Homo sapiens: one gene and its partners. The protein of the gene in region 1 interacts with the protein of each later gene in a biochemical or structural test. Each region holds a gene or a part of one and is shown in the gene's direction. Other genes may lie near its edges.

Region 1 (5,488 bases):
ATCCCACCGGGCAGAGAACCAGGGATCCCCTGGAACCCTGGGCTTGTGTTTGGCCTTGGGCAGGGCCCCCCACCTTCTCTGGAGCTCAGTGACCTCACCCGTTGAAGGCCTGGGCCGCCACACCCTGTCCCCTCTGCCTCTATCCTGCACACCTGTGGATGGTGGTCCAGTTTGGACTGGCTGGTTTCTTCTCTTCCCTTGCCCCAAAACCCACTCCAGCCCCCTGCAGGGAGGAAGTGGATGAGGAGCTCTGGGGTGGGGGTGAGGCCTTGTTCAGGGCTGGCCCACCTGGCTCCACTCTGGGACTCTTAGCAAGTCCTTCCTATCTCTGGATGTCCTTGGTCTCCGATATAAAATGAGGGTCCTGAACTCGGTGACCCTATGCTCCTCCTGTCCTGACAGTCCGCGGTGCCCCTGGAGCCATTTCAGGCAGTGGGACAGAACAGGGGGAATACATTTAGCAAAGAAAGGCCTCCCTGAAAACTCTATTTACAGAGCAGAAGGTGTGCCTGGCCCCAGAACCCCAAGCCTTTCTCCTGGAGCCCTGGCTGCTGGGATGCTGCGGGAGGGGGCAAAGAGGGTCTGGGCCTCCCAGCTCTGAAGGGCCAGCATTACGTTAGAGGCCGTGCCTGCATGACCTGTCGGGTCTCCAGCATGATATCTCATTGGCCCAATTTTCTCATTTTCTTTTTTTTTCGAGACGAAGTCTCACTTTGTTGCCCAGGCTGGAGTGCAGTGGCACGATCTCGGCTCACTGCAACCTCTGCCTCCCAGGTTCAAGCGATCCTCCTGCCTCAGCCCCCCAGTAGCTGGGATTACAGGCACACGCCACCATGCCCGGCCTAATTTTTGTATTTTCAGTAGAGACGGGGTTTCTTCATGTTGGTCAGGCTGGTCTCAAACTCCCAACCTCAGGTGATCCACCCGCCTCGGCCTCCCAAAGTGCTGGGATTACAGGCGTGAGCCACCGCACCCAGTCAGCCCCATTTTCAAGATGAGGAAACTGAGGTTCAGAGTAGTCAACAGCTCGCCCAAGTCACACAGTGGATCTAGGACTTCAACCCAGGACTGTAGGAGCCAGGGAGCTCTTTGAGAACCAGGGGAATAGGGAGAAGAACTCGGAGTCAGGGTGGGTGACCGCGGGGGAGGAGGTGGGGGCAGGGCTCACTCTCCCTGGGCCCGGAGAGGGAGTTTCTCTTGGGAAGAGGCAGGCTCTGAGGCTGTTGATCTCTAAATTATAGCGTTGGCGCGTACCGGTTGCTGCGGCAACCGAGTTGTCCTGAACCGGGGAAGTGTATAAACATTGCCACAGATGCACAATTAGATCAGGAAGAAGAATAGAACAGAAAATAGAAACTTCCAGCCTTATGTAATTCTGGGCCAAAATGTTATTGGGAACCCAGGCCCAGTCCTGGCCCTGCCAGCTGCTGGGGCCTGGGGCAGCAGCATGTCTTCCCTGGGGACGCAATGGCAGAGAGGGGTGGAGAGAAGGTCTGTCCTCTACGGGCCCGAGGCGCATCCCGCCACCCAGTGGGGTGAGGGGCCTCTTCTGCTGCAACAGCTGGGGATGCTTGACAGGCAAATCCTGCCTGTCACCAGCTCCTGGGAAGTGTGGGAAGGAAGGCAGGAGGGTGATGGCTTTACCCCAGCACCTGCTGTCCCCGTAGGTCCCATGAGGTAGGGAGTTTTGGTGCCCATGTTACATGAAGACATGGAGGCTCTGAGAGGTGAACTGAATTGCCCGAGGTGTGTCCTCCCCTCCCACTCCCTGTCTCCCCGCCATCAACTCATTCATGTTGGTGCCACGCAAGTTTGTATCCACTGCCAGCTTTGTGGCTGGCAGGTGGCTTTCCATCTCTGAGCCACCTGGGACATGGGAATAGCGATGTCTACAGAGGAGTCAGAGCTGGGGGCTCCCCCTTCCTCCACCCTGACTGTCACATTGGATTCTCCCCTCACCACTGCTCCTAACAAGTGTGGGCACTGGGCAGGAATTTGGGCTCAAGGACTCAAAGCAACACTGGGAGAGAAGAGTCTAAGAAAGGAGCTCAGACCCAGGTGGGGCTGCGGGTCCCAGTAGAACTTTTTCTTTCTTTTTTTTTTTTTTTTTTTTTTTGACATGGGGTCTTGCTCTGTGACCCAGGTTGGAGTTCAGTGGCATGATCACAGCTCACTGCAGCCTTGACCCCCTGGGCTCAATAGATCCTCCTGCCTTAGCCTCCTGAGTAGCTGGTACCAGAGGCATGCACCACCATGCCTGGCTAATTTTCTTATTTTTTGTAGAGATGGGGTCTCACTCTGTTGCCCAGGCTGGTCTCAAACTCCTGGCACAAACAATCTTTGCATCTCGGCCTCCTAAAATGCTGAGATCACAGGCATGAGCCCCTGTGCCCAGCCAGAAATTTCTCAGTGATAGAACTCTCCTGTGTCTTCTCTGTCCAGTGTGGTGGCCGTTGACCACATGTGGCTCCTGATCACTTGAAATGTGGCTCATGCAAGGAAGGAGCTGCAGTTAATATTTTATTTCGTTTTAATTAAATGTAAAGAGCCACACGTGGCCAGTGGCTAGTGCACAGGAGGATGTCCAGCCCCCGAGAAGCCCAAAAGTGCAGAGATGGAATCCAGGGAGGGAAGCGGGCTTAGCGCCTCCGTGGCTCCCTATGCTCAGGGCAAGCAGGACAGAGGGACAGGGAGGAACCAAGATGGGCATCAGGAAGCTTCCAGAACAGTGAGCATAGGAGGGCCGGAGGGGCAGTGTTGAGGGGCAGGGACTAGGACCTGGATCCTTGTGGCTTTAGCTTCCTGGTCTATGGACCCCAGTCTCTAAGCTGGGCCGGACTGGGTGGCACTGGCTCAGACCCTGTCATCAGAGCCACCTCTGCTGCCACCCTCCGCCTGCCGGGGCAGAGGAAGTCTTAGGTCCTGGTCCAGGCTCACCTGCTTCTGAGAGTCTTGGGGCTGAGTCTGAGTGGCCCCGAGGGAGCCCCTCGCTCCCCAGCATCTCACCTGTCCGGCTTCTCCTCCGCAGGCCCTGCGTCTTCCCAGGTGACCACGCCGGCTTCAGGACATGCACGGACACAGCCGCAACGGCCAGGCCCACGTGCCCCGGCGGAAGCGCCGCAACCGCTTCGTCAAGAAGAACGGCCAATGCAACGTGTACTTCGCCAACCTGAGCAACAAGTCGCAGCGCTACATGGCGGACATCTTCACCACCTGCGTGGACACGCGCTGGCGCTACATGCTCATGATCTTCTCCGCGGCCTTCCTTGTCTCCTGGCTCTTTTTCGGCCTCCTCTTCTGGTGTATCGCCTTCTTCCACGGTGACCTGGAGGCCAGCCCAGGGGTGCCTGCGGCGGGGGGCCCGGCGGCGGGTGGTGGCGGAGCAGCCCCGGTGGCCCCCAAGCCCTGCATCATGCACGTGAACGGCTTCCTGGGTGCCTTCCTGTTCTCGGTGGAGACGCAGACGACCATCGGCTATGGGTTCCGGTGCGTGACAGAGGAGTGCCCGCTGGCAGTCATCGCTGTGGTGGTCCAGTCCATCGTGGGCTGCGTCATCGACTCCTTCATGATTGGCACCATCATGGCCAAGATGGCGCGGCCCAAGAAGCGGGCGCAGACGTTGCTGTTCAGCCACCACGCGGTCATTTCGGTGCGCGACGGCAAGCTCTGCCTCATGTGGCGCGTGGGCAACCTGCGCAAGAGCCACATTGTGGAGGCCCACGTGCGGGCCCAGCTCATCAAGCCCTACATGACCCAGGAGGGCGAGTACCTGCCCCTGGACCAGCGGGACCTCAACGTGGGCTATGACATCGGCCTGGACCGCATCTTCCTGGTGTCGCCCATCATCATTGTCCACGAGATCGACGAGGACAGCCCGCTTTATGGCATGGGCAAGGAGGAGCTGGAGTCGGAGGACTTTGAGATCGTGGTCATCCTGGAGGGCATGGTGGAGGCCACGGCCATGACCACCCAGGCCCGCAGCTCCTACCTGGCCAGCGAGATCCTGTGGGGCCACCGCTTTGAGCCTGTGGTCTTCGAGGAGAAGAGCCACTACAAGGTGGACTACTCACGTTTTCACAAGACCTACGAGGTGGCCGGCACGCCCTGCTGCTCGGCCCGGGAGCTGCAGGAGAGTAAGATCACCGTGCTGCCCGCCCCACCGCCCCCTCCCAGTGCCTTCTGCTACGAGAACGAGCTGGCCCTTATGAGCCAGGAGGAAGAGGAGATGGAGGAGGAGGCAGCTGCGGCGGCCGCGGTGGCCGCAGGCCTGGGCCTGGAGGCGGGTTCCAAGGAGGAGGCGGGCATCATCCGGATGCTGGAGTTCGGCAGCCACCTGGACCTGGAGCGCATGCAGGCTTCCCTCCCGCTGGACAACATCTCCTACCGCAGGGAGTCTGCCATCTGACCTCCAGGCCCGGCCCTCACCACTGCCCACAAGAGCCTCTGCCGGGGGTGGGATGCCAGGACACCCCCTCCCACACTCAGGACAGAGCCAACCCTGGCTCCGTGGACCTTCTGGAGGAAGGTGGGGGTTTCAAAGACTGGGGGACCCCTTCCTCCTGACTCCAGCACCCAGGCCTGGGAAGAGCTCGGCCCCGATCAGCCTGAGTTCCGCCAGCGCCTACTTCTGGTGGCTCTAGGTCCCCGGATCCACCACCCTTCCCCCACTGACTCTTCAAGGACGTGCCCTCTTTGCTCTCAGAACCTTGGGGAAGGTGGCTGGACTGCTGGGCGGGGGACATCTCGGGGTTTCAGGGTGGGCAGGGGGTTAGTTTGGGGAGGGGGGGGTGCGTTTCTTTTGCATGACTGTGGCCTGTTGCTCATGACTTTCTTTTGTAAATATCTATAAATGGAGACAGATGGAGACACCAAATTCACTTTCTGCCGTTTTTACCTGCTGGACAGGGAGATGCAGTCCCTCTCTGTGCACCCCTCCCCACCCAGCCCATCAAGCCTAGCGCCTTCCCCTGCCCAGCTGGCTGGCCCCTTGAGGCCCTCAACGCCAGCCACCTTGGCCCTTGGATGGTGTTGGGTTTGGGTGCAGAGGAGGGACTCTGAGGGGTGGGATGAGGGACCATCCCTCCCTCCCTGCAGTCCCTCCAGCCCCGGGCCCAGCCCAGATTGACAACAGAGTTTGTAACCATATATATATATATATATATATATTTTTTTTTTATTTTTTATTATTATTTTTTTTTCTTGAGACGGAGTTTTGCTCTTGTTGCCCATGCTGGAGTGCAATGGAGCAATCTCGGCTCACTGCAACCTCCGCTTCCCAGGTTCGAGCGATTCTCCTGCCTCAGCCTCCTGAGTAGCTGAGATTACAGGCATGAGCCACCATACTCAGCTAAGTTTTGTATTTTTAGTAAAGATGGGGTTTCACCATGTTGGCCAGGCTGGTCTCGAACTCCTGACCTCAGGTGATCCACCCACCTTGGCCTCCCAAAGTGCTGGGATTACAAGTGTGAGTCACCGCACCCAGCCGTAA
Region 2 (7,115 bases), on another chromosome or scaffold:
GCCCAGGGTGGAGTGCAGTGGTGCGATCTCGGCTCACTGCAATCTCCACCTCCTGGGTTCAAGCAGTTCTCGTGCCTCAGCCTCCTGAGTAGCTGGAATTATAGGCACACACCGCCATGCCTGGCTAATTTTTGTATTTTTGTTTTATTTTGAGATGGAGTCTTGTTCTGTCGCCCATGCTGGAGTGCAGTGGTGTGATCTTGGCTCACTGCAACCTCCACCTCCTGGGTTCAAGCAATTCTGCTGCCTCAGCCTCCTGAGTAGCTGGGACTACAGGCATGTGCCACCAGGCCCAGCTAATTTTTTGTGTTTGTATTTATTTATTTATTTATTTATTTTTTGAGATGGAGTTTCGCTCTTATTGCCCAGGCTGGAGTGCAATGGTGCAATCTTGGCTCATTGCAACCTCAGCCTCCCGGTTCAAGCAATTCTCCTGACTCAGCCTCCCGAGTAACTGGGATTACAGGCATGCGCCCCCATGCCCGGCTAATGTTTGTACTTTTAGAAGAGATGGGGTTTTGCCATGTTGGCCAGGCTGGTCTTGAACCCCTAACCTCAGGTGATCTGCCCATCTTGGCCTCCCAAAGTGCTGGGATTACAGGCGTGAGCCACCACGCCCAGCCATATTTTTTTATTTGTTTATTTTTTTATTATGTATTTATTTACTTTTTTGAGCAGAGTTTCACTTTTGTTGCCCAGGCTAGAGAGCAATGGCGTGATCTCAGCTCACTGCAACCTCCGCCTCCTGGGTCCAAGTGATTCTCCTGCCTCAGCCTCCCGAGTAGCTGGGATTACAGGCATCCGCTACCACGCCCAGTTAATTTTTTGTATTTTTGGTAGGGACAGGGTTTCACTATGTTGGCCAGGCTGGTCTCGAACTCCTGACCTTAGGTGATCCACCTGGCAGCCTTGGCCTCCCAAAGTGCTGGGATTACAGGCATAAGCCACCGCACCTGGCCCTTTTTTGTGTTTTTAGTAGAGGCAGGATTTCGCTATGTTGGCCAGGCTGGTCTCAAACTACTGGTCTCAAGTGATCCGACCACCTTGGCCTCCCAAAGTGTTGGGATTACAGGTGTGAGCCACTTTGTCCGGTTATTTTCATTTTTAATTTTTGTGCGTACATAGTAGGCATATATATTTATGGGTTACATGAGAAAATCGAAAACATTTAAGAAAAAGTGATTGAAGCACTTTGTAAGTTGCACAAACACTGGTGAACACCCAAAGCACTTAATCAAAAGATCCAGGGATCAAACTATAGCATTATGAATTTTGAAAATGATTTATTTAATTAATTAATTTATTGAGACAGGGTCTCCTTCTGCCACCCAAGCTGGAGTGCAGTGGCACAATCTCAGCTCACTGCAGCCTCGACCTCCTGGGCTCAAGTGATCCTCCTACTTCAGCTTCCCTAGTAGCTGAGACCACAGGTGCCTGGCTAATTTTTGTATTTTTAGTAGAGGCGGGGTTTTCCCATGTTGCCCAGGCTGATCCTGAACTCCTGACCTCAGGTGACCTGCCCACCTCAGCCTTCTAAGGTGCTGGGATTACAGGCATGAGCCACCGGACCTAATCAAAAATGATTTATTATTAGTGTTACTAGTGTCCCAAACTTCCAAGATTTTTCTCAGATTCCCTTTATTCTCCCATTGCCTTTTCCAGCACTGGGCTAGGCACCAAGGGAAGCCTTCAGAAATAATTGTGTCTTGATGTGACTCCCAAGTGTTGGAGTATCTGCCTAAGTCTTGTCCTCCTTCTGTACCTGTGCAGGCGGCCGGGAGAACAAGATGCCTATTCTCATTTCCAAGATCTTCAAGGGATTGGCAGCTGACCAGACAGAGGCCCTTTTTGTGGGGGATGCCATCCTGTCTGTGAATGGGGAAGACTTGTCCTCTGCTACCCATGATGAGGCGGTGCAGGTCCTCAAGAAGACAGGCAAGGAGGTGGTGCTGGAGGGTAAGCACTGACGTTCCAGGGTTCAGAGGGGCTGGGTGGAGGTGTTCCACTGCTTCTCTACCTCCCCCAGGCCTCAGAAGGCCCCATCCCAGCACTGGGGGCTGGGAGGTGGGCAGGACTGAAAACAGAAACAGAATTTGGGGACCTGCCTGAAGACAGTGTGGGGTGGTGGAGGGAGAGTTGGCATAGAGCCAAGCAGACCTGATTTGCATTTTCTGTCTTCCAGTCACTAGCTGTGTAGCCCTGGACAAGTCACTTCATTTCCCTGATCCTTAGTTTCCTCATTTGTAAAACAGGGATGTAGCTCCTGCCTTTCTGGGTTGTTGCGACTAGGGCAAAAATGTACATGGCAGAGTGTGCCAGCACCTGAGTGACACAGGGAGAGAGGGGTGCGGACTGGGGAAGGGGCAGGTCAGATTCTTTCCTGTGGGGCCTGGAGAGCTCTTGACTTCAGGTTCTTTTAGTGCCTGGGCCTTAAAACCCCAAGACCCATCCTCCTTTGGGAGAAGCCTTGGCTTTTATTTTACTTTATTTTTTTTTTGAGATGGAATCTTGCTCTGTTGTCCAGGCTGGAATACAGTGGCATGATCTTGGTTCATCGCAACCTCTGCCTCCTGGGTTCAAGTGATCCTCCTGCCTCAGCCTCCCAAGTAGCTGGGATTACAGGTGTGCGTCACCATGCCCAGCTAATTTTTATATTTTTGTAGAGACAGGGTTTTGCCATGTTGGCCAGGCTAGTCTTGAACTCCTGGCCTTAGGTGATCCACCCACCTCAGTCTCCCAAAGTGCTGAGATTACAGGCATGAGCCACCACGCCCAGAGGCCTTGGCTTTTATAGAGTAGGACATCAAATCCTTCCAGCCAGGATCAGAGAGGAGTTTTGTGGAGGAACCTTGGTTGAATGGCTTTCTCCACTGTTCCCTCACAGTGTGGTCTTGGGTGGGACCCTTGCCCTCTGTGGGCCTCGGTTTCCCCATCAGTTGTTACACGCCTCCTGCTGAGGTTGTCCCATGACCATCTTGTGCCATGTCTCTCAAGAGGTTTCTGCTTTGCTCAGCCCTTTCCTCAAACTCTGTCAGCTCTGGAAGCCCCGTGGGGGCCTGAGGAATGTGTCTCTGGCTTATGGCCCAGAACAGGCACAGGGAGGTGGCGGGGGCTGATGGAGAATAACACGGCCAGAGAAGCTGCTGAGTTGAGTCCCAGGCCCAAATCCTGGTGGGTTGCCTTGGTTTCCCTAAAGGAGTGTCCAAGAGGCCACAGAAGCAAATAGGTTCTCGGTCCTTGGTTGACCCAGATATAAAATAAAATAAAATTTAAATAAAGAAAATAAAATGTAAAGTTTTATTTTATATTTTAGGTATATCTATTTAAATGCCATGGATGCATTTTTTTTTCTTGTTTTTTTTTTTTTTCGAGACAGGGTCTTGCTCTATCACCCAGGCTGGAGTACAGTAGTATGATCTTGGCTCAATGCACCCTCCACCCCCCGGGGCTCAAACAATCCTCCCACCTCAACCTCCTGAGTGGCTGGGACTACAGATGCATGCCACCACACCTGGTTAATTTTTTTTTTTTTCTGAGATGGAGTCTCACTCTGTTGCCCAGGCTGGAGTGCAGTGGCATGATCTCGGCTCACTGCAACCTCCGTCTCCCGGGTTCAAGCAATTCTTCTGCCTCCGCCTCCTGAGTAGCTGGGATTACAGGCACCCACCACCATGCCCGGCTAATTTTTTTATTTTTAGTAGAGATGAGGTTTCACCATATTGGCCAGGCTGGTCTCAAACTCCTGAGCTTGTGATCCACCTGCCTCAGCCTCCAAAAGTGCTGGGATTACAGGTGTGAGCCCCTGCGCCTAGCTTTTTTTTTTTTTTTTTTTTGAGATGGAGTCTTACTCTGTCGCCCAGGCTGGAGCAGTGGCGCGATCTTGGCTCACTGCATCCTCCGCCTTCCAGGTTCAAGCGATTCTTCTGCCTTAGCCTTCCGAGTAGCTGGGACTACAGGTGCGCACTACCACGCCTGGCTAATTTTTTTTTTGTATTTTTAGTAGAGACAGGGTTTCACCATATTGGCCAGGCTGGTCTCGAACTCCTGACCTCGTGATCTGCCTGCCTCGGCCTCCCAAAGTGCTGGGATTACAGGCGTGAGCCACCACACCTAGCCAATTTTTTGTAGAGACAGGGTTTCACCATGTTGCCTGGGCTGGTCTCCAACTCCTGGGCTTAAGGGATCCTCCCACCTAAGTCTCCCAAAGTGCTGGGATTGCAGGCCACAGTGCCCAGTCTAGATGCATTTTTTTGATACTTAAAAAAAGCTGACTCTAGAGTGTTGATCCTTAGAAGCTTAAGTGTATCAATCATATTTTAATGGCAAAGTTAAATAATAGAATGCCACATAAATGATATGGATATAAGAGACTTTCCCCACATGCCTCATTACTTTGATATTTATAGTCAGCAATGCGGTTTGAAACCACTGACATTCATCGAAATGTCATATTTTAGTTGACTTGAAAGCTCTTTTAGCTTCTGTTGTTTGAAAGTTTAGTCTATGGTAAAATTTCTGCTATAGACACAATTCAAATCCACATTCACACGGAGGTCCCCTCACCTCCTCATCTTTATTTTTTATTTTTATTTATTTATATTTTTGAGACAGAGTCTTGCTCTGTCACCCAGGTTGGAGTGCAGTGGCGGGATCTCGGCTCACTGCAAGCTCCGCCTCCCGGGTTCACGCCATTCTCCTGCTCAGCCTCCCAAGTAGCTGGGACTACAGGTGCCCGCCACCACGCCTGGCTAATTTTTTGTATTATTAGTAGAGATGTGGTTTCACCGTGTTAGCCAGGATGGTCTCGATCTCCTGACCTTGTGATCTGCCCGCCCCGGCCTCCCAAAGTGCTGGGATTACACGCGTGAGCCACCGCGCCCGGCCCACCTCCTCATCTTTAGATTAAAAATGTATCTATCTGGGTTCCCATGTATGTCGTTTTGAGAAGGTAGTATCTGTAAATGTGTGACCTTGAAGCATCTTCTGACTTTAGGAGTGAATACTCAAGCCTTCCCTCTAACTCATGTCATGCATTCCTCCTCACTAAGCCAAGAGACATTCATGGACATCTACTGTGTGCCTGCTGTGTATATTAAGGTCAGAAGCTAAACTACACCCAGGGCCTCTCCTGAAGGAGCTCACCATGTGGTAGGGTAGACAAAACATAAACACTATCTCCTCTACACAAACTGTGTTTTTTTCTTGAGGCAGGGTCTCACTCTGTTGCCCAGGCTGGAGTGCAGTAGTGCGATCTCAGCTTACTGCAACCTCCTTCTCCCAGGTTCAAGCGATTCTCTGCCTCAGTTCTGTAGCTGGAATTACAGGTGTGCACCACCACGGCCTGGTTAATTTTTGTATTTTTAGTAGAGACAGGGTTTTGCCATGTTGGCCAGGCTGGTCTCGAACTCCCGGCCTCAGTGATCTGCCTGCCTGGGCCTCCCAAAGTGCTGGGATTACAGACGTGAGCCACCATGCCTGGCCTACAGAAACTCTTTAAAAGCCGGTGGCTAGGTGCTGTGACTCACGCCTGTAATCCCAGCACTTTGGGAGGCTGAGGCGGGTGGATCACCTGAGGCCAGGAGTTTGAGACCAGCCTGGCCAACATGGCGAAACCCCGTCTCTACTAAAAATACAAAAATTAGCTGAGCCATGGTGGCGCGTGCCTGTAATCCCAGCTACTCAGGAGGCTGAGGTAGGAAAATCTTGAACACGGGAGGCGGAGGTTGCAGTGAGCCGTGATTGTGCCGCTGCACTCCAGCCTGGGCGACAAGAGCAAGAATCCATCTCAAAAAAAAAAAAAAAAAAAAAAAAAAAGCTGGTGCCTGAAATCCTGTCTGCTCTGCAATAAATCTCTGTTTGGCCTTGGGTAAGACCCTTGCCTTCTAGGGGACTCAGTTTTCCTATTGAAGTTAGGCTAGATCAGAGGTGATCAATAGCTTTTATTTAGAGTGGCAGCTCCAGGCAGGCGTGGTGGCTTACGCCTGTAATCCCAACACTTTGGGAGGCTTAGGTGGGCAGATCACTTGAGCCCAGGAGTTCGAGACCAGCTTGGGCAACACAGTGAGATTTCATCTCTGTAGGAAAAAAAAAAAAAAGAGTGTAAGCGTCAGCTCCACTGGTGGTTCTGTGAGTTCCATATTTGGAAGGATTGGGAGGCTTTGTCTGGGCTCAGCAGAAAGGAGCTGGAATTGATTAGCAATGTCTACTACAGATGCAGTAGAGAAGTAACATGTGTATCATCCCAGGACTGAGGGGCCCCTGCTCTTATATTCTCTGAGATGTTTCACAGGACGAGATCATTCCTTGGTGAACCCTGCCTATGGCCTGGGTAAGAGAAAGAAGAATGTGGCCTTCATGTTTTTCCCCACTTTTCCTTAGTTGAAGTCTTTTTCGACCTATTCTCCTGGCCCAAGATCTCATGGAAGGAGGTCATTCCACTCAAGATAGCACAAAGAGGGGAGGAGGAGTGGTGGAAGGCACTGGAGTCAGGAATCTCTGAATGGCAAGAGTGATCAGAGAGGTCTGAAGGATAGGAGGATGCTGGGCTGTGGCTGGTCCTTGAGACTTTGGGGAGTGGAGAAGGTCTGGGCCTGGCAGTTGCACCAGTCTGGAGCAGCCAGGGTTCCTGGGACCCTCTCTGGGCCTAGGTTTCCCCGGAGTTGAATCACTGACCACATTGTTCAACATTTCCCCACTCACATCCCATTACTGAGGACGCCTCCAAGGGGCCATGGAAGGATGGCCTGTCCTTTGGATGTGAACTTGGCAAGGCAACTGGATATTTTTCCAGCTCAGTGGATAGTGAATCCCCTGAGGATGTCCTGGGAGAACAAGCATTACCAGCAAACTCCAGGTGTCAGCTAGAGCCTTACTTCCCTGGCCTAAGTTGGGGGCTCAGCTGAGCCTCAGCAACCCCAACCTGCCTCCTAGAACATTTCTTCTACTAGGTCAGGGGTTTGCAGAAATGTCCTGATCCTGTTCTCAGCCAGAGGGGTGTGTTTGTGACCACAGTCTGGGCCCAAGTTGGCAGCCAACAAGTGTCTGTCCGCTGCTTCGAGAGGCCCGTTGTGTGTGCAGACCTCAAGCCAGGGCCAGCCTGGGCCCTTGAAGGCCAG
Region 3 (7,115 bases), on another chromosome or scaffold:
GTAAAATGCTTTGAAGAGGAACATTTTCAATTATCAGAAGAAAAACATTTTATTTTTCTAATAACATTCCAAACAATTATGATGACGCTATTCTAAGGACCATACTTTGAGTAGTGAGGCTTTATTGTAGAAGAGCTAAGTGAAATGATATTTGAAAGAACCTGCAGAATTTGATTGTGGCGTAGCTTTTGGCAGTCTTAGAGGGTTTGAGGTGAGTAGGAGAAATCTCAAAAAAAAAAAAAAAAGACAGTGAAGAGATTTTGGTAACTTAAACTTTTTATTATATAAATATCAGATATATTCAATAGTAGAAAAGTAGTAAAAATAAACCCTGCAGGTATTTGTTTATCCAGCTTTCATAATTGTCAACTGAACATTTGCCAATTCTGTTTCTTCTGTACTCCCACTTACACTCCCCTCCCTTCACCCCATTGCAATAACTAATTTTTCTTTAGTTTACAAACTAGAGATTGCAGAGGGTAATACCAATACTAATGTAAACAGAATAACTCTTTTTTTAATGTGGCGTGTTTCTGGGTATGAAATTTAAGGAAATAGGACAGAAAGTTAAAAGGTATATATAAATGAAGACATTCATAATTGTTGATACTTGTGAAAAACAGTTTAAAGCAAATAAAAATATCTAATAAATAGCGAGGTAAATAATGTATCAATCTAATAGAATATTATACACCAATTTTAAATTATTGCTGTCAAGCCCATGTGGTGACATGGAAAGAAATATTTTAATATGAGCTTTTAAAAAACCTACCATTTGGCCAGGTGCGGTGGCTCACACCTGTAATCCCAGCACTTTGGGAGGCCAAGGCAGACAGATCACGTGAGCTCAGAGGTTCAATATCAGCCTGGCCAACATGGTGAAACCAGTCTCTACTAAAAATAGAAAAATTAGTTGGGCATGGTGCTATATACCTGCAGTGCCAGGTAGTCAGGTGTCTGAGACACAAGAATAGAATCGCTTAAACCTAGGAGGCAGAGGTTGCAGTGAGCTGAGATCGTGCCACTGCACTCCAGCCTGGGCAACAAAGGGAGACTATCTCAAAAAAAAAAAAAAAAAAAAAATGAAATTTCCAGCTGGGTGTGGTGATTCACACCTGTAATCCCAGCACTTTGGGAAGCTGAGATGGGAGGATCCCTTGAGGCCAGGAGTTTGAGACCAGTGTGGGCAACATAGTTGAGACTTGTCTCTTTTATTAAAAAAAAAAAACAAAATTTTAGCAGGGCATGGTGGTACATACCTGTAGTCCCAGCCACTCTGGGCTAAGATGGGAGGATCACAGAAGCCCAGGAGAGGAGGGCGAGGCTGCAGTGAGCTATAGTCATACCACCTCACTCCCACCTGAGCAACAGAGTGAGGCCCTGTCCCTTTAATTAAAAAAAAAAAAAAAAGTTAAAATAAAAATTCAGATTTCCCTGTCTCATTGAAAGTTTTATTTTTATTTTTTAAAAATAAAAGTATTAGTCTTTGTTTAATTGAAGGGAGATATTTATTGAGAGAAAACTTGAGATGACATTTACATGGATGAGAAGAGTGCCTATGGTTTTACCAAACAATAAAGTCGTGAAATGGAGTCACTTTTAAGGAGGGCCAGGCAGTTTCTGGCTGGGTGTGTTTGTTCTCATTGTCTTTTTTATGTTTTGCAAAAGCCAGCCAGTGCCAGTCTTATCAAAGCAGAGTTTCTAAGAAATATTAGTTGGTTTTAAAATGCAATTGCCACCATCGGTGCCTTCCCTTCCAGCTGAGACATCTGAATTTATGACTTCTAATATTAGTTGGTTTTAAAATGCAATTGCCACCATCAGTGCCTTCCCTTCCAGCTGAGACATCTGAATTTATGACCTTTACAATCCTTTATCTATATGATCTCAGAAACATGGATTTTCATCTTCAGAAACAGGAGCAAAGCTGGATTGAAAATAAGATCATCTATTTATTTTTAATTACAAAGACATCCCGTCATTAAAATGGGCATCTATTTGTTTAAATATAGTTTGTCCCCTTTGCCAGTTAACGCTGTTTCAAAAACTGAAATAGTGCCAACAGTATTTTCTCCTTTGAGTTTTATGTCTACATTTGGACTAATTCAGGGTCACTTAGCCCTTTTTGTCATATTCTACTTGCTATTTATAATAGATTTGTTCATAAACTGTGTTGTACAAAAATAAGGCATTGTCCTTAATTACAGGAGTTTTCCTTTGCTAATATATATTTATTATTTGAAAAACTTAAACGTTTCAAAGAAAAAGAAAATGCTTTTAAAAAATTATTTTGTTATATATGGCTTATATCTCAACATTTCATTTTGATTATTTGCTTTTTAAACTCATGACACTGTTTTATTTTTTTTCATTGTCCTGCAATTTCAGAGCATGTAACTTCTAATGCCAGCGATAGTGAAAGTAGTTACCGTAAGTGTTTTAAGTTACTTGTTCTTTTGTAATCTCGAGTAATACATCCTCTGCAGGGGTGGAGGGATTCTGAGTGATATGTTATAAAAACCTGAAGTTATATGATCGTTATTTTAAAATCAGGGAGAGACAAGTAAAATTCTGTACTTGAAAAATAAAATCATACTATATATGTAGAGGTTAATTTATAAAATTTTAATAAAATAAAAATATTATTTGTGTACATGATACATATGTATATGTATATGTATTTTTTGTAAGAAGTAAATATCTAGTTAAATGGGGGAAAACTTGTATTTTGACCTTCTGTTTAGTAATTGGTTTTAACATGAGCACTAAAATAATATTTTTCAGTAATGCTAAATTATCATTAGCTTTATTTCCATTTTTATTCTTTGTCACCAATACTGATCTGGGTCATGTCATTGTTTATCACCAGCACTTGGTGAACGGAAGAAATAAGGAAACATTTTCAATGATCACCTGAAAAATAATACTAATTTTTCTTTTGCTGTTTTATATTACATTCTTGGTTTTATTAAGTGAACTGCACAAGCATGTGATGTTTTAAAACAGACTTGGGCATGGGAGAAGGGGAGGGTACATAATATCAGTTGTAGCACCTTAAAAATTAAAATTACTTTTCTAACTTTCTTTTTTTACTGCTGTCTAATATGAAAGTAATCTTGATTACAGATGAGTATGGCTGCTCAAAAGGTCCATCCTGTTAATATCAGTCCCTAATACTTTTTCATGTTGACAGTATATACTTTTAACCGTCATTCATTTGGTTGATTATTTTTCTACACAATAGTTACTTAATGATTTTTTTTTTGGTGTGGAAATGATTTCCTGTATTTCAGCATTTTATTAATTATAACCAGAACCCACTATAGGGTAGTTGAGTGGCTTTCTAGGCTAAAAAGAGGTAATGAAAGTATATACTGTCTCTCACCATTTGCATGAATTATTAAGGTGTGAAATATTCAAATTGCATGTGTTTGCTAGTATGTAAGCCATGTTTCACATCCAGTACTTTAAAAAACAGCTTATAAAATATTGGTCTTATGTACTTTGATAATAAAATTGAAAACAAAGAAATACTTCTAAAACAGAAAAGAATGTTTATGCCAATGTATGGATTTAAAAGACCTACAGCTACATACATATAATATAAACCAATTGCAAAATTCATGGTAAAATTGTTATAGGATCTTGATAATTAAAGAGAAAGTCTTCAAATACATTATCCAATATTGATTGCTTTCATTGAACCACTTGGGTTAACACAGTCTTTTCTAATTTTAGGCGTGGGGGTGAGGGGGGATGTGTGTGTGTTAGTTTAAAACTCCTAGAGTTTTTGGCCGGGCGCGGCGGCTCACGCCTGTAATCCCAGCACTTTGGGAGGCCGAGGCGGGCAGATCACCTGAGGTCAGGAGTTCGAGACCAGCCTGACCAACGTGGAGAAACCCTATCTTTACTAAAAATACAAAATTAGCTGGGCATGATGGCACATGCCTGTAATCCCAGCTACTTGGGAGGCTGAGGCAGGAGAACCGCTTGAACCCGGGAGTTGGAGGCTGCAGTGAGCTGAGATCATGCCATTGCACTCCAGACTAGGCAACAAGAGCGAAACTCCGTCTCAAAAAAAAAAAAAAAAAAAAAAACTCTCAGAGTTTTTAACTATTTATTTCTTTTCACTGGATTCAGATATTCAGATATAATTTGTAGACTCTTTTATTTAGAGTATTTCCTAAGCTCCGAACCTTTAATTTAACCTTTAGAAGCTTTAACTTCTTGTGTTTTTAAGGTCAAAGCAAATATATTTATCTCCTTTACTATCACTGTTGTTTATTTTCTTGGAAGGATTTAGTTTTATCTAAAGCTCTTTTTGACTCACATTAAATTTATTATTTTTTTACAAAGTTGAGTTAGTGAATTTTTCATCAGTGAAATAGTAACAGTAGTTTTACCTTTGCATTTATAATTTTTAATTTTAAGATGTAATTATTTTAAAAATAAAATATACTGTATTCAGTATTGTAGTTGGTGGAACAAAAAAAGTAGCATGTTTTTAATAGTAACAAATTACCTAATACGTAGATAGATGATAGACAGATCTGCTCATTAAAGCATTAATCTTTAACAGATTTAATAATTCTTAGATTCTAAATAAAGGAGTAGCACATAGCATCACAAATGAAGATTTTTAGATTTGATTATCTATAAAATATAATATTGATTATATAGCCCATTTGTATTTTGTTTTACATTTAGCAAACTCACTTTTAAGACTTTATAATTTGACACTTTTTTTTAACTAAATCTTGCCATAAAGTACCTCTTTCCATATCTTTGCCATTTTCTCAGGAAAGTTCTAGTAATGTATATGTTGTTTATGAAGAATTAGATTAGCATCAATTATCTTTACACATTTTTCATCTGTGCCTTCACTTTCTAATAGGTGGTCAAGAAGAATACGTCTTATCTTATGAACCAGTGAATCAACAAGAAGGTTTGTGAAGCCTATTGATGTTTTATAACCTTCTAGAAGAATATACTTTTTAATTTGGGGGAAAAAAATTCTCATACCCCAAAAAATGTTGTATTAAAATTTTTTTTTACTACATATACATGTAGAAATTTACTACATGTGTTTTATGAAACATAGTTTACTCCACAGAATATTAGAATCTAGTCATTTCATACTGACTTTTATATTTGTGTTTTATTTCCCAAGCAACTTTGTTCCAGTGTTCTTGTTAGCATCACTATCTTCCAAATAACCCTTTTTTGAAAATCTTGGAAGTATCTTTGAGCCTTCTCTGTTCCTCCTCCTCCTCCTCATCCAGTTAGGTTCCAGGCACTGTTTATCCCACTTCTTTCTTATTTATGACCTTCTTTTCATCCCTTCTATCACAATGTTAGTTCTCAGTCTCACTACCAATCTCCATTATTCCAGCATGATCCCAGACCACCCAGAGTTTACACTTCTGTTAGATCATCTTTCTAGAATGCTACTACTGGGATTATATCACTTCCTACATCCAGTTTCTGTTCTGCCCTTCTTTGCTCTGCTTCCTTACAATTTCTACTTCAAAGCCATCTGTAAAACACTAGACTTTATTCTGTCATTTGCAATGTAAAGAAACATTATCTGCGAAAACACCAAATTTAACTTGATTGAATTATCAATATGACTTCTAGCAGAAGACTAAGTAAAGTTTAAGATCTGAGTCAAGATTATAAAAGAGCAAGTTACGCATCTTTGGTTGATGGTAGAGTGAGATGGAGAGGGAAGAAAAAAATTAGTCATAACAGTTAAGGATATTTTTGTTCGCTGGTGAAATAAAATACATTGATATTTGTTGAATGTTTATTCCTTTTAACATGCAGTTTATCTTTATAGTTAATTATACTCGACCAGTGATCATATTGGGACCTATGAAAGACAGGATAAATGATGACTTGATCTCAGAATTTCCTGACAAATTTGGATCCTGTGTTCCTCGTAAGTAAACCAAACAAAAACATTTAATTGTTACTCTTAACATTTCCTGTCACTGTGTGTGGGAAAAATAGATATAACCATTTTTTAATGGTTTGTACTTATTTTATCAGTTACTCTTCCATCCTCCATATTATTGTCCTTTCTCAGATTTAAATTAATCTGTTCTGTTGAACTTTACAAAACGATGTAAGTAGAAAATGGATTTATTGTGGTTTTTTTTTTAATATTAAACACTTTCCCAAGTTTTTTTCTGTTAAAGATACAACTAGACCAAAACGAGATTATGAGGTAGATGGAAGAGATTATCATTTTGTGACTTCAAGAGAGCAGATGGAAAAAGATATCCAGGAACATAAATTCATTGAAGCTGGCCAGTATAACAATCATCTATATGGAACAAGTGTTCAGTCTGTACGAGAAGTAGCAGAAAAGGTAAGCATCAGACTAATCCCAGAATATAGCTTCTAATCAGATATGCCTTTGACAGTATGCAAGACTGGTAGGATAGATACAGCACTAATTAGTTTTGTTAATGTGATGAATTTGCTTACCTAAATAATTAATTTTCCATGGCTTAGGAAAGTGCATACAAGATAAAACAGGTAAATAAGGTAAACAAAGAAAGTGAAAATAGAAATGATAACATGAATGTAAGAGAAGTTATTTTCAGGTCATTTGCTAGAGATAGACCTTTTGTTTAGGCCTAGCTCTCCAGCATATATTAAAAGGAGATAAGGGCCGGGTGTGGCAGTGCACCCTTACAGTCCTAGCTACTGAGAAGGCTGAGTTGAGAGAATCACTGAAGCCTGGGAGTTTGAGGCTGCAGTGAGCTATGAGCATGCCACTGAACTCCAGCCTGGGCAACAGAACAAGACCCTGGCTCTTAAAAAAAGAAAAAAAAAGAAAGATCAATAAATCTAACCACTTAAAATTTTTAAAAAACTTTTTTTATGGCCAAAGACTTTTTCCAAAAACTATTGGAAAACACCATTAACAATGTCAAAAGACAACTGACAGAAAAAATTTGCAAGAAAAGGGCTAATATTCCCAATATATAAAGAACTCATAAAAACAGGGAACAGAGACCAGAAACCCAATAGAAAAAAACAGTGGACAAAAGATCAGAATATATAGTTCACACAAAAATAAGATATAAAATGGCCTTTGTACATAG

The links.
Region 2: the proteins of KCNJ4 (region 1) and SNTA1 interact in a test that uses a peptide from one of them, tested with the Homo sapiens proteins (2 studies listed by BioGRID and IntAct).
Region 3: the proteins of KCNJ4 (region 1) and DLG1 form a complex in vitro, tested with the Homo sapiens proteins (2 studies listed by BioGRID and IntAct, with this or other methods).

The regions. Positions count from the first base shown.
Region 1 is NC_000022.11:38,425,712-38,431,199, reverse strand, and holds the end of KCNJ4 (inward rectifier potassium channel 4), read left to right. Parts: intron 1-3,028; 5' UTR 3,029-3,067; coding exon 3,068-4,405; 3' UTR 4,406-4,873; downstream 4,874-5,488. UniProt on the Homo sapiens protein: Inward rectifier potassium channels are characterized by a greater tendency to allow potassium to flow into the cell rather than out of it.
Region 2 is NC_000020.11:33,433,682-33,440,796, reverse strand, and holds part of SNTA1 (alpha-1-syntrophin), read left to right. Parts: intron 1-1,770; coding exon 1,771-1,956; intron 1,957-7,115. UniProt on the Homo sapiens protein: Adapter protein that binds to and probably organizes the subcellular localization of a variety of membrane proteins. May link various receptors to the actin cytoskeleton and the extracellular matrix via the dystrophin glycoprotein complex.
Region 3 is NC_000003.12:197,064,534-197,071,648, reverse strand, and holds part of DLG1 (disks large homolog 1), read left to right. Parts: intron 1-2,388; coding exon 2,389-2,430; intron 2,431-3,111; coding exon of another isoform or gene 3,112-3,147; intron 3,148-4,894; coding exon 4,895-4,945; intron 4,946-5,839; coding exon 5,840-5,941; intron 5,942-6,184; coding exon of another isoform or gene 6,185-6,198; exon of another isoform or gene 6,199-6,200; coding exon 6,201-6,373; intron 6,374-7,115. UniProt on the Homo sapiens protein: Essential multidomain scaffolding protein required for normal development. Recruits channels, receptors and signaling molecules to discrete plasma membrane domains in polarized cells.